Regions from separate parts of the Homo sapiens genome. Here region 2 is linked to region 1. The links come from fine-mapping of genetic effects on gene expression. Tissue or cell type: whole blood. Region 1 holds a variant in brackets; the other region holds the start of a gene. Each region is shown on its reference strand, or each on the opposite one.

Region 1 (4,367 bases):
CCTTCTCCATGTATGCATGTATGTGTTCAAATATCTTTTTATAAGGACATTAGCCACTGAATTAGGGCCCACACTAATAACCTCATTTTAACCTAATTACCTCTATAAAGACCCCACTTCCAAATTAAAGTCACATTCTGAGGTACTGAAACCTACCTTTTTGGGGGAAACAATTCAGCCCCTAACACCTCCCCAGCACTTCACACCCCACCTCACATTCCACTGCTGATTGAGCTGAACCTTCACTTCCCAGGTCTCACACATCCATCCCTTTTCCCTTGCCAGTGGTGTGGTGGCCCAACCACACCAAAATAAAAAACTGCCTAGGCCAGGTGAGGCCAGATCCCATGACTCCATCCAAGACAGCCCAGTGGCCAAGGAGGTTGCACAGGGTCTCCCCCACTCCCCACTGGAAGACAGCAGGGGCAGGGTCCAGATGGTATAATCAGTGGGTACACCTGGAGGACGTGCAACAACCACGTGACCCACTGGCATTTTAGAATGTCAACTCCAGCATCAGGGATGGTAGAGAGACGATCACAGCAGGAAGACTAGTCAGGAAACAGGTACGGCGGTCAGAGGCAAGGAGAGAGAAAGGGTCCGAGCTGGGGACGCTATGGTGAGGATGGAGAGGTGGTGGCAGAGGGAATGACATGGCTGGGACTGCGGAACAGGGTGCAAGGGTGGGCAACTGAGCCAAGCGTGGAGCAGAGTGCTGAAGACAACGAGCCCACAGAAGAATCAGCCCCCAGGGGAAACGAGAGCTCTTTAGACGCGCTGAGAGTGAGGGAGCAAATCTTGGTAGATACTGAAGTCTGGAGCTCAGGAGAGAGGCAGGGGCTGGAGACCAGTTTTGAGAGTCCTGAGTGGATTAGATCACCTTGGGAAAGCAAGAGGCAGCAGGAATGGAGGCTCAGTGAAGTGCAGTCATGGGCCAAACCCTGGAAAAGACAATGTTTTAAAGAGAGCTGGGGCACAGATGTGAGAAAAAGGAGGTCCAGAAGGGTCCAAGAAGCAGGAGGAGAACCAGGAGAGAAGGGTGGTTCCTGAGACCAGGACGGTTCAGGAAGACCAACAGCACGCACTCCTTCGGGGCCCCCCTGCTGCTCTCTCTTGCTGGACTTTGCTTAATGTGAGCAAACTGTCACAAATAAGCTGATTGAGCTCCCATCAAAAGAAAACTGCAAGCATGCCTCTCTCATCTTTTAACTGTTTATTGTATAATATAAAACTACAAAAGTAAGACTGCTCATTTCCATGTACATTTAATCTGTCCAATTGTTTAGATTACAGCCCAAACCTACATGTGAATACAGCCATCTGGGTTCCGATGTAACGTCTGTAATATTGCATAGAAAAGGCACAGCTCTCAGGTCTGTGGGGGAAAGGTTATACCTCCTTTTTGACAAAAGCCCTCCTCAAAAACCATGCACCAAACATGTCACTATGTACATCTTTTTTCAAAATCTCGGTCATGCGCACATATGGCCTGCATTTCTCTTCCAAAACTTGTTATCCCCAAAAGAAGTCCAACTTTTTATTGGCTTTGTCTGCAATAGCATTTGATCCTGGCTAATTTTCAAGAACCATTCAGACTCATTCTTAGAAACACTGAAAACAATTGTACATAAGCAGGATGCACACAACTCCATGCCTCCAGGTGCGGGGCAGTTACAGGAAGGTAACCATTTACAGCCAGAAAAGGTTAAATATACTCTTTTCATTGTTTTCAGAAAATGTATAAAGGTCCAATTTGTAACAGCAAGGTTTTCAAATTAAGACAATTCGTATAGAGTAGCAATTGCTGCACGAAGTAGAGTCTTTTTTTTTTTTTTTTTTACATTTGTCATTTAAGAAGGCTGCCCTGCGGTATTCATAATTCATTGTTTACCACAAAGGTGGTTCATAAATTTAAGCTTTAAAAACGATCTGTAAGTTGATACTTTGGCTCTTTGGAGCTTATTTCATTAAGAAATTTTCCTTGATTGACCTCAGGGCAGCTGGGGCACTCCAAGGGGCTATGGCGATAAAAAGCTCAATTGGTAAAGACACTCGAGAGGTGCAGAGGAGGCTCTGGCCACTGCTCACCCTTTGGTATGAACAAGGGTGCCCATGTGGTTGCTCCTTCTGTCATCCAGAGAAAGTGCTACTAAAAAAACTTTAAAAAATATCAACCCTTTGATGCTTTTCTTAAAAATTTGGAGGTATTAAAACATTCCTCATACCTTTTGCATATTTCAAATAGACCCATATTAGAGAAGAGTAAAAATGAATGCGGACTGTGCATACAATGAGAAGACCTGGGGGCCTGGCTTGGACCCCCTTTTAATACAGATTTACATTCCTACAAGAGAATACATTCCTACCATACATTCTGCACATGTTACGATCCAGATGTTAGCGCTCCACAGTAAAATAAATATATTTACACAGAAAAAAGGAATAAATAACTTATGGGGGGAAAAAAACTCA[CTTCAAA/C]TTCAAAGCTCTTACGATTCTGCTCTCATCTTGTCACTTCATTGCACATCAGTGTCAATAACTGTCCTCTCCCAGCCCCAGCTCGGTTTTCTCGTAAAGGCACCTCAAGCTGCCTGCCTGGCCCTGGATGCCATGTGATGTCTTTCATAAAGGGAAGGCACTGCTGGAAGCACATCCCACACTCAAACTGGGACTTGGAGATCCCACTCCAGCTCCTACTGTTCCCTGTTGGGACATCACTTTGTAAGAATAGGATGCAAAAGCAATTAGAACCCTAGATCATTTTGATCTTTCTGAAAATGGGCTGCTAATTTTCCATGTCTTTCTTGTTAGACTTTGAGTATCAGGGATTTATGGCAACGGTGTCAGAGTTAAAAAGCATTTGCCTGCTGTTTTTGGGGTTTTTGTTTTGATTTTGAAGCCCAGCCTTACAAATACATAAGAGTCAGAGAACCAAGTTTGGGCAACACTTCTCCGTGCTTATTTGAACTGTTGCCCAACATATGGGATTTGTTTAAACACATGATTTGCTAATCCAACAAAAGTACAGTTGTTGTAAGTTACTGTAAATCAGTTTTTAACAATGGCAAACCAACTGTTTTACCCTGTTATTGTTCAGAATCATCAATACTATTGTATATGTGTACGTAGGTAGATGTGTGCAGCATGCGGCAGGTTTGCCAGGTCCTCCAGTTATAGAAAGCATGGAATCTGGGCAGACTTGTTCTCTGCAAGAAAGGGAAGCTCTTAAAATTAACAGGCATACTGACACTGGAAGCATCTACTACAACCCTCACCTCAGTTACATGGTCCCTGGTCCTATTAAAGGAAATGACACACCTGTAGCAGTACGAGGTGTCTGCGTGGAGGTTGCTTGTAGGAGAACAAGTGCAATTTGATCAGTTTCTCACTGCTCTACTGAGCTGATAATTAGCCTTTAAAACACATTCAAGTGGGGGGAAAAAGTAAATTAGAATGTAGAAAGCCTTTATCATATCATACTCAAATCTTTTGCTTAGATGAGCAGTTCCTTCATCACAAACGTCTTTGCTTTGCCATGTGCATTACAAAAATAAAACTAACTATGGCTTGCTTAAAGTGCCATTTTATAAAGTTGTCTTTTTTAATTAGCCAGAAAGACCCAATTTTATCCATGGCAAGAAGTGAGCAGAATTGGTGACTGAATATTGACAAATGACCAACAACAAAGACAACAACAACAACAAAACATCCCATAATTTAAAAATTTTTAAATAAATATAAAAGTTATTCCTAAAGAAGCCATCTGCATAACAATATAGGTTGTAACCTGCACTCAACAGCTAAAGTACCATTGGAAGAAAAGAAAAAACTGAAACAAGAAGGCCATAAACAGTTTCGGCAACAAGCATGATACATTGCAACCTTTTTAAAATTAAATGTACACCACTAGGAATAAAAAGCTACTTCTCAAGTGTGTCCTGGGAGATAAGGTGATGGGGGGGGGAATTGGGGGGAGGAGGGAAAACATGCATAGAAAGTCCTGTCTGAGTTTTGGGGTAAAACAGCCTTGACAAGTGTGAAGTAGCTGACTCAGGAAAGCAACCAGATGGGAAGCTGTGACGTAATGTGATGAACTCCAGGTTCAAGAGTCACACATGTTGTAAGAGTGCATCCCGGGCCGGCCGAGGCGAGCCAAGCTCACTGTGGTGATCACGAAGATGCCATTTTCAGCTCTTAGCAACACAGGGAAAGCTCTAGGGAAAGGAAGCTGCAGAAGACAATTAAGCAACATGATGGATGCCTTCTGGGGAGATTTTCTTCTTTAAGGGCCCTAAGCATTGCAACAGGGCTGAGTTCCATGAAGAAGTTGGTTGCTTTTCGGATGTAAAATTTTGTTCGGATGTAAA
Region 2 (4,402 bases), not on the chromosome of region 1:
GTAACTCACTGGAGGCTTAGTCTCTGTTTTTCTGTAAAATAGGGATAACCATGTCTGATTTACAGGATTGTTGGAAAGATAAAATACAGTGTGTAAAGTGCACAGCACTACTTTATGCATAACATCCTCAATAAATATATTAGTTCCCTTTCCCTTGTGATGCTACCATACCCAAATAGCCATTGTGATGTTTCCTTTTCATGCACTTCAGCTTTTCTTTTTCTAAGTAGTTCTCTGTTTCTCAAACTCCAGGTTCCAATGACTTCTGTAATAAAATGAAAGTGATTAGAAAAAGTGATGAACTGTGGTGTCTATCAGCAAAAGTCCTGTAGCCAAGTGGCAGAGTCTCTGTTCTAGGTTTTTCTCCTAGCTTTTTGAGGACAAGGACTGCATCTCATTTATCCTTGTATCTCCAGAGAAAGCCTGGAAGCAGACATTCAGCAAATGTTTTTGAATGAAAAGGTCAGAGACCTACTCCTACATAGTATTTGTACATAAGTGTGCTACCAACCTATTAATTTCTTCAAAGTAATTTTATATATTGTACAAATAATGAAAAAAGTAGCCATATTTTGCTGTCTTTAACATGATAACTTGTTTTCATTTTATTCCTCACTTCTATCCAGTCTTTATATTACACAAAGTTGTAAGAATAGCATACCACAATTTTAATCTTTTTATTAAGCTAGCGTTATATTAGAACTATTTTCCATGACGTAGTCTTCATAATGATAATTTTAATGACAATGTGATACATAGTCTAGTTGATGTACTCTCATTTACCCAATCATTCCTCTTGGATTGAGCATTTAGATTGTTGCTAGTTATCTTTGCCTTGTATATCAAATTATAATAAGCATATTCATTGCATATAGCTTTTCTTTGGTATTTTTTCCTTAGAACGGTGTTTTTTCAAGTTCTTTGGAAAATTAAGGGTTTGATCAAAAAAGTTTCTGCTGCTGTCTAAGGTTGAGAAAAATTGATGAGTCTTTGATGCAGAGCTTCCTAGAGCCTGTGAAGTGATACAAATCCACACTGGGACCTCTAAAGAATAGAGCATGCCCCTTGAACCATGGTGCCTCTTGTTCTTGGGATAAGGGTTCTTAATAGGAAAAATTATATCTTTATTTTTACCAACCTCTAATTAAAATTGACAGTTCCTTCAATTATGAATGTAGATAACAAACCACAGTAGTTTTGGCAGTATATGACTTTTTTTTCAACTTTTATTTTAAGTTCAGGGGTTCATGTGCAGGATATGCAGGTTTGTTACATAGGTATACATGTGCCATGGTGGTTTGCTGTGCAGATCATCCCATCACCTAGGTATTAAGCCCAGCATCTATTATCTATTCTTCCTGATGCTCTCCCTCCCCCTCAGCATATGACTTGGTCCCTATAAAGAAATCACATATTTTTTTATCACATTATAGTTGTTGCAGATACCTTAAAATATCACCTACTGGCTATGACTTATTTGACTTGATACTATTATTAGACCCACCACTGGATATTGTAATCTATAAATAATCATATATATTACTATATAATAATTTTTTATTTTGATATTTGTATCTTAATGTAATTATTCCCTTTCTAGTCTTATATATTTAATTTTATGCCTTTAAAAATTTTATTCAAAGAAGGAGTCTCTGGGTTCATCAGAATGCCAAAGAGATCCATGTAGCAAAAAAAATTTAAAACAATGTCTTAAGGTATCTCAAGGCCTAAGTTTCCACAAAACATTTTGAGAAATGTTGCTTTAGGATAGATCCAAGGACTGAGATTAGTGAGTCAAAAGAATAAGCAGTATTATAGCTCTCACCACTTATTGCCAGATCTCTTTCCAAACGTTAGACCAAATTTGTGCTGCCATAGAAATGTATGAATCCACTTGTTTTACCACAGCCATCGAATGAAATTATTGGATGAACTAGTCTCATTAGCTTTCATTTATTTCCTTTTTTTTTTTTTTTGGCCAGATCCATTGAAAAGAGAAAATTATCATACCCCGAATTCTTCTCAACAGCCACCAGCTCTTAAGGTATTTTTCATTACCTGGAGAATGGTTCTCTTCTTGATGAGGGTCAGGTGTCTGATGGTGCTTCAAATGAGATTGGTCCTTTCCCAAATCCATCTTGCTGCAATACCTTCCTGCTATTTTGGTCTGACTTCCACAAGCAGCCTAGATGCTTTTTTAAAATATCAAAAACATCTAACACTTAAAAAAAAAAACCACACACACAAGTTTGCCTGTCACTTGACTTCCCGCCTAAAAGTTTTATCTGGTTGGACCACAACTGCAGGCTAATTCTACTATCTTTATCACACTGCACAGGTGTGAGTAGGGGAAATGGCTGGTGCTAGCAACCCCTAGCATAGGTTGCTATTTATACAGGGAAACTCTCTGACCACAGCCTGGCATGGCACAGCCTCTAGTCAGCACTCTTTTGGTTCTATCTGCCAGGAAGTGTCTGGATCCGATGTTCCTTTTTACAGATGGAGGTAGCCTAGTGTAGAAAGAACACAATCTAGGCCCCAACCAGCTCAGTGGCCCAGGGCAAGTCACCTCCCTTTTCTATGACTCTCTGCATTTGCAAAATGGGTAAATAATTCCTGTCTTGCCTACTTCATACGGTTCTTGTGAAAGTGAAAATAATAGATATAAAAGTTTCTAGAAAGTGTGATATATATTAATCTTACATGGTTTCCTGTATGTAGCTTTTTTCACCTTAATCTGTTGCAAAATAATGTACAGTTTTGCTGTGTATGCTGTTAGACTTAGTTAAGAAATAGACATAAAGAACCAAATTAGAATTTCACAGCAATTTTGTACCCTTTTTGGCTCACCAAATCATTCGCAAGTGACTCAAGATAACTAGTGAAATCCATTGTTACTCATATAGGGGAAGGTGAAAAATTACTTCTTAATGAAAATATCACCACATTATATCCCAGAAATTAAGTTGAAATAATCAAAGGAACCATCCTATCTCCAAGCAGTAACCCCATTTGTGAAGACAAGGAGCCACAGACTACTATGGTTCAACTAAAGAAGAAACCCTGAGCACCTCCTGATACAGGAAGCCAGTCTGGGAGATGCAGGATTAATATATGTGTTCTGGATTCAGATTGAATTGAAGTGAGTTTGAATTCCAGTGTTGACATTCCCTAATTCAGTGACCTGAGGCAGGTTAGATAGCCTTGGAGTCAATTTACCTATCTATAACATGGGGACAATATTGGTATCTACCTCAGAAAGTTACTGGGATGATTAAGTCCAGTAATCCATATGAGGCATTTTATGTGTGCCTAGCATATTGAACTTGGTCAGTAAATGTTAGCTACCAATAAAAATACAGTAACCAGATTTTGGTAAAGCAAGTCATAGTTTAAATGCACTAAAGAGAGAATCTGAAGAGGATTCTTTATAAAGAAAGACCTTTGTAATGTGAATAGATACCCACTACTTCCATGGAGTCTTAAGGCATTAGAACTGGAAGAGCCCAAAATCATCTAGTCCCTGCCTATTTTGTATACAAAGAAACTGAGAACCGAGGAGGAGAGTTACCTATACTTAGTATTTTATTACTTATTGCCAGCAGCATCTCTTACAGATTAGGAGATGGGTCATCATTTTGTGTGCTTGATCTTTCCTGGGTATAAAAATGTGTGTATCATGTAAATATATTAGAGAAACAAGCTGTCAAACACACTAAAGGGTATCGAGAATGATATAACAAACACCCAAGTATCTGCCACTAAAATTTAACTTGGTTTTTAATTACTAAACCCTAATATTTAGCTTTACCTCTCTCAGTTCCCCAGTCCTTCTCTTAAGTAAATCTCTGTATCTAAAAGTTCAGGTAACTTCAGGGAGCCCCTGCTCAAAGGAATCCTGCACGGAACAGCAGGCATTATTTGCTTGAAAATTTTGGATTTTCAGATATGGGGTTTAAATAACTCAAACTAACTTTAAAAATTACAAAATAGTGTTTTTTTAAATATTGGTCCCTTTAGTTGATATGTTTTAATTCTTATTAGTTAGGTTGTTTCTTACATTAGGATAGTTTAATAAAATAACATTATAGAATCCCTCTGGGACACCTTCAGTGGATGCAGAGGTACTTCTTGAATAAAATTGTCCTTACTAAGAGCTTGTAACACCCAGTTCAACAATTCAGCAAATTTTACTTAATGCCCCCTCTTGTGCTGTAGAGACGGATGGTGCAGTTCCTGAGCCCTGTGCCCTGTAGGCTCATAGAGGAGAAAGTGTGTACATCTGTATTGCAAGGAAATAATAGATTCTTTATATCCTGCTACAACCTACCTAAGTCAATTCCACCCCTGCCCCATGTTCCCTGTATCTAGAAGCAGAGTGTGGAGGGACTGTAAGAGGGTG

What was found. PIP is the estimated chance that this variant, and not a neighbour inherited with it, causes the effect.
Region 2: it holds the start of HEMGN, and the variant in region 1 is the best candidate, but not a certain one, in a credible set for the expression of HEMGN in whole blood (TOPMed, PIP 0.61).

The regions. Positions count from the first base shown.
Region 1 is chr2:64,630,423-64,634,789 of GRCh38, forward strand. SERTAD2 (SERTA domain containing 2) reads right to left here. Exons shown (of 2, transcript NM_014755.3): 2 at 1,199-4,367. Among named protein-coding and RNA genes, the nearest start is that of SERTAD2-AS1, 4.3 kb to the right of the region's middle. The variant CTTCAAA/C (reference allele first, on the strand shown) is at 2,473.
Region 2 is chr9:97,936,000-97,940,401 of GRCh38, forward strand. It overlaps HEMGN (hemogen), which reads right to left and starts at 2,173. Exons shown (of 4, transcript NM_197978.3): 1 at 2,059-2,173; 2 at 172-265. The coding sequence starts at 2,137.